Regions from separate parts of the Homo sapiens genome. Here region 2 is linked to region 1. Evidence: fine-mapped QTL for protein levels in blood plasma. A gene starts in region 1. The other region holds a variant in brackets. All regions are shown on one strand. Distances are from middle to middle. Region 1 holds the start of OSTN (osteocrin). Region 2 has its middle 75 kb from the start of OSTN.

Evidence for each region. A credible set is the group of variants that fine-mapping cannot tell apart. PIP is the posterior inclusion probability: the model's chance that the variant is causal. Protein levels are from antibody-based Olink assays in UK Biobank. Linkage for the fine-mapping came from a reference panel and not from the study's own genotypes, which makes the PIPs less certain.
Region 2: its variant is the best candidate, but not a certain one, in a credible set for the plasma level of the OSTN protein (UK Biobank, PIP 0.75).

What each region holds. Positions count from the first base shown.
Region 1 is chr3:191,198,010-191,200,932 of GRCh38, reverse strand. OSTN (osteocrin) reads right to left here and starts at 1,692. Exons shown (of 5, transcript NM_198184.2): 1 at 1,626-1,692.
Region 2 is chr3:191,123,273-191,126,195 of GRCh38, reverse strand. No RefSeq gene overlaps it. Among named protein-coding and RNA genes, the nearest start is that of OSTN, 75 kb to the left of the region's middle. The variant T/C (reference allele first, on the strand shown) is at 1,170.

The DNA of each region.
Region 1 (2,923 bases):
TAAAGCTGTCGAAGTCAGAACTAGAATTAGAAGTCTAGTTTTCTGCCTCCAAAGCTTGTATTTCTCTGACTGAACTATTGAATCTAAGCAAAAGTTGTCTGGTAGGTAACAGTCATAGTAAATGAAATATTGGCAAAGCAGTTAAATTAGCTCTAAAGATTAGTCCTAAACTTCTGTGATACTGAGGTTTTATTCTCTAATATAGGGAAAATTGACTGACATGGGGGCTTCCTCAAATATTTTTATACTCAGTATCCCTAGCACTTCTATTTTTTTTTGTCCTTTTCACAAGGACAAAATACAATATTATCAAGCCTTAATTCGTGCTTAAGGCTTGCCTGCAGTTGTATAGGTGGATTATAGCAGAGCTAGAATGATATATTAGGATTTCTTACTTCGAGTTCTTTATTTTTGAGACAAGTTCAATTAATCTAATTTTATTAATCAAATGTTCAAATCATTGAGAGTATTTGTAAAAGAAGTTAAAATTATAGCCCTGAGGTTCCCGTGCCCAGTCAACTGAAGATATCTGCTTCTCTACTGCTCATTATTCAGTATATAAGAATCAGTTAAAAATCCTGAGAAATAAGGGGGAGAAAGCAAATGTCAACCTTAAACACTCTGAATAATTTTTGAATGAAGCCATAGTAAAATTCACTGACATGAAGGAGACCTGAACTGTTATCTACAGAAAGTGCTCCTTAGAAAAGTTCTGTAAGCGTGCTGAAGAGTAGTACCAAAGTAAGAGAAAACACAGAATGTCCCTGGTGTTTTTGGTATAACACTATCAATTCTATAACTTATATAGGCATTAAAATTACCATAATTCATTCTCAAAAATGTTAAATTTTTAGAAGGAAAACTCATAAACAAATAATAATCACATTCCTAAACCTATAGAGTCTGTTATTCAAAGAAACAACATTTGAATTGTTAGAACTGAATTCACTGAGTGCACACTAAACCTGAAATAAAATTTTAAATTTCTTCTCCAACAGAGCTCAAATGTATGTTTCAGATTAACTCTCAATTCAATCATTGAATAGCAAGAGCACTACAAATACTGAAGAACAGGCATACTCTAAGTCTACTCCAACTATGTTATTAATATCATATTTGCATATTTGACATATAAGGAGAAAAACAGAAGATGCATTAGGTTTTAAGAACATAAGAGATAGAATTTCATTAGTTTAGGGATGTTTCTTAAGCTCCAGTTTTGATAGAAATAATGAGGAAAAAACCTTTCTTTTTTACCTAGGTTGTTTAGACCACTCTTTTATATTAAACATTTTTCTAATATTACACAATTTTGAGGAAAGCAAAATAACGCTAATAACATATATATGTATAGAATTATTATTTTGCATTCACTTTCTGTTTGTTTTGAAATGGAAGAGAAAAGCAATCTTATAAATATGAAATATCTGAATAAGCAATTAGTTCTACCTTAAGTTTGCATTACAAAAATATCTTTGATTTTCTACTCATTTTAGAGAGGGAAATATTACCACTCTAATTTTAACAAAATCAAGATATAATCAAAACATTTAAAGAGTCTGTGAAAGTAAAAATAATAGTTAAAAGAAGCATTAAATCTTTATCAATTTTTACATATAACTTACCTCGTGAAAGATCAGGAGATTCTAACTTTAGAGTACTGTCTCTGCAGTTTCTCCAAAACTCAGCCCTGGTGGTGAGTTTTCTCTCTGAGTTTTTATAGTCTCAGTTATACACCCCTTACTCCAATCCCTGCCTTTGCTTTCTCTTACATCATTTCTACAGATTTTCCACTGAACATTTTCCCAAGCCTCTCTTCGATCTCTTTCTCTCCCTCCCTCTCCCTTCCTTCTTCAGTTTCTCCCTCCCTCCTTTCCCTCCATATTTAGTCTATCTATTGCTTTGATCATGGCATTTAAATAACGATGGAAGTATAGGCTCTGGAAAATTTGAATATAGATTTAGTATTGTGTTCAGCTTCACACCCATCACCTCTTCCTGAGGTTTTAGTCAAGCTCTGATTATTACAAATCATATTTGGGAAATAAAATGCACTAAGATTTGTTAAAAAGTCACCAGGGAATTTCAATGTACGATATAGAGAGATTGTAATCAGACACAAACGGATTTATTGGTGTAATTTTTGGACCTTTAAATGATCAGCTATGGAAATAATGAGTACTTTCAGCCTCCGTCAGGTGCACAGTGCTGTGTCAGTGAAACACAATGACAGCTACTTCGTAATTAACATTGCTATACTGGGAAGGCTGTCACTAACAAACCTATAAATACTGAGCTGTGACATGTGAGCTATAAATGAAGACGTTGTAATCATTTTTGTCTTGCTCTTGTTCTTCAGTACTTTGATTTCTTTTTAACCAAAATATTTCTGCCTTTGGCTGAAGGTTTTCTTTCATTCTTATCTCCTACTAATTATATTTGCATCCTTACATACACAAATTATTTTTTAAATGAATTATTAAGTTATAAAGGTAACATGTTATGTTATTAGATCGTTAATGGCTCATTTGATTCACCAGAGGGTCCCCATCTGACAGGTAAAGAGGCCAAGGCTCAGATAAATTAAGTGACTTTATGAGATCACACACGTAAGAAGTAGTCGCAGAGCTGGATTTCAAATGCAGATCTTCCTAATTCCATATCCAGTTCTTTTCCCACGACTGCATTCTATCTCACTGCTTTAAAAGCTAGAAAAGAGAATCCAAACCAGATTATATTTTTGCACAAAAAGCAATAAATTTATTCTTTTTGGTTTCCCTAAAAAGGCCATTTAAAATACTAGTCACTAGTATAAGGACAATTACATGGTTAATTTGGATCTAGATGGGGAAACTGACCAGAGCACACAGAATTAGTGGGACAGTAAAATGCTTCATTTTTATGATGGGTTTCCAGGGATAAC
Region 2 (2,923 bases), 75 kb after region 1:
CCCTCCAGTCTTACCAGAATGACCTTTGTAAAATACAAATCTCAGTAGTTTAGACTCATGTAAAACACCTAGAGATTTTCATTGCCAAAAGTAATAGTTTCCAAAAGGAGATGCATATTCTCCAGAGAATATGTAAGACAGATTCATTAGATACCAATAAAAATGTGAAAATTTATTTTTATTAAATATTATATTTTTGACTTTTAAAAATTTATATTTTTGTGTATAATTAAGACATATAATATAAAATTACTACTCTGCCTATATGTTCTACAAATAAATGCATATAAACATATATTGTTATACATCACACACTTTACTAATAAATGTTCCCAATCAAAATAATTTGAGGATCACTGACTTACAAGAAAAAAAAAATCCTCCCCCTCCCCCTCCCCCTCCCCCTCCCTCTCCCTCTCTCTCCACGGTCTCCCTCTGATGCCCAGCGGAGGCTGGACTGTAATGCCACCATCTCGGCTCACTGCAACCTCCCTGCCTGATTCTCCTGCCTCAGCCTGCCAAGTGCCTGGGATTGCAGACGCACGCCGCCACGCCTGACTGGTTTTCGTATTTTTTGGTGGAGACGCGGTTTCGCCATGTTGGCCGGGCTGGTCTCCAGCTCCTGACCTGGAATGATCCGCCAGCCTCGGCCTCCCGAGGTGCCAGGATTGCAGACGGAGTCTCAGTCACTCAGTGCTCAATGCTGCCCAGGCTGGAGTGCAGTGGCGTGATCTCGGCTCGCTACAACCTCCACCTCCCAGCCGCCTGCCTTGGCCTCCCAAAGTGCCGAGATTGCAGCCTCTGCCCGGCCGCCACCCCGTCTGGGAGGTGAGGAGCGTCTCTGCCTGGCCACCCATCGTCTGGGACGTGAGGAGCCCCTCTGCCCAGCCACCCAGTCTGGGAAGTGAGGAGCGTCTCTGCTCGGCCGCCATCCCATCTAGGAAGTGAGGAGCGTCTCTGCCTGGCCGCCCATCGTCTGAAATGTGGGGAGCGCCTCTGCCCCGCCGCCCCGTCTGGGATGTGAGGAATGCCCCTGCCCGGCCGCGACCCCGTCTGGGAGGTGAGGAGCGTCTCTGACCGGCTGCCCCGTCTGAGAAGTGAGGAGCCCCTCCGCCCTGCAACCGCCCCCTCCGGGAGGTGGGGGACAGCCCCCGCCCGGCCAGCCGCCC[T/C]GTCCGGGAAGTGAGAGCCCCTCTGCCTGGCCGCCACCCCGTCTGGGAGGTGTACCCAGCAGCTCATTGAGAACGGGCCATGATGACGATGGCGGTTTTGTCGAGTGGAAGGGGGGGAAGTGTGGGGAAAGGAAAGAGAAATCAGATTGTTGCTGTGTCTGTGTAGAAAGAAGTAGACGTGGGAGACTCCATTTTGTTCTGTACTAAGAAAAATTCTTCTGCCTTGGATGCTGTTAATCTATGGCCTTACCCCCAACCCCTTGCTCTCTGAAACATGTGCTGTGTCCATTCAGGGTTAAATGGATTAAGGGCAGTGCAAGATGTGCTTTGTTAAACAGATGCTTGAAGGCAGCTTGCTCGTTAAGAGTCATCACCACTCCCTAATCTCAAGTACCCAGGGACACAAACACTGCGGAAGGCGGCAGGGCCCTCTGCCTAGGAAAACCAGAGACCTTTGTTCACATGTTTATCTGCTGACCTTCCCTCCACTATTGTCCTATGACCCTGCCAAAATCCCCCTCTCCGAGAAACACCCAAGAATGATCAATAAATACTTAAAAAAAAAAAAAAAAAATCAAAGCTCATTAATAGGGATTAAAGATCTTTTTTTGACTTAGCCTCTGCCTGACTTTCTGTGCTTTTCTCTGCCATGGTTAGGTTCTCCTAAATGCAGGTACTAAGATAGAACCAGTGAGGAAAAGGTTTATTGGGAAGTAACACTTGTGAAAGGTAGAGGGAAGAAACAGGATTGGGCATGATGAAGACCCTACATCTCTGCCAACTCAACAACAGGAGTTAGACGAGCCCTGGGTTTGGCAGAAGTGACTCTGCTTTTATACCACTGCTTTGCTGATTTATTGGCCAGGGTCCAAGTCGAAAAGAGCATGACCTCAGCTAAAAAGCTGAGGTGGACCCTGAAGGAACAAATGGCTGGTGGCTGTAAATACCAGCATCTTAAAGGAGGATATGCATGGCACATCTCCATGTCTATTGACTACTCTCAAGTGCACTTCAACACCCTCACCCCCAGACATACAAAGTCACCTCAGTGACTCTTTATATATTTTTTTCTGCATGAAAACACATGCCTCTCAGATTCTTGGTGATTAAACCATACTGCTTGGGTTCTAATCTTAATACTTCTTAGTTCTTTGAGCTTGGGAAAATTACCACACCTCTCTGTGTATTTATAGATGATTATTTAAGTTTCCTCAACTGTAAAATGGGAATTAAAATAGAATATAACTCAGGGAGTTGTCATGTGAAGGTTAAATTGTTGATACATTAAAATGTTTTAAACAGTGCCTGCATGTACCGGATACTCAGAAAATATTACCTATTATGAAATCTCATCACTTATTCAATAAAGTATATAATTAGAATCTCCCTCAAAGTTCCCTTTGAGTATTAGGCAAACCATTATTGTAACACTTAAAAGACTGAGAGATATGCAATTTGGAAAGATATCTGGGGCTAGCTGTTTCTGCTTTATATAACATCAGCTGGTTTGGCTACTTTCAAGATGGCTCACTCATATGTCTGGCAACTTGGTACAGATTGTCAGCCTAGAGGCCATCCAGGAATGGGCTTGGAGCTTGGTTACACTCCATGTAGTTATTTCTGTGTGCTGATTAACCTTTCTTGGGCATGAAATCCCAAGAGAATCAGGCAGAAGCAGTATTGCCTTTTATGACTTAGCCTTGGAAGTCATGTAGAGTTATTTCTGCTGTAGCTGTAGAGCTGTCCTACAGGCT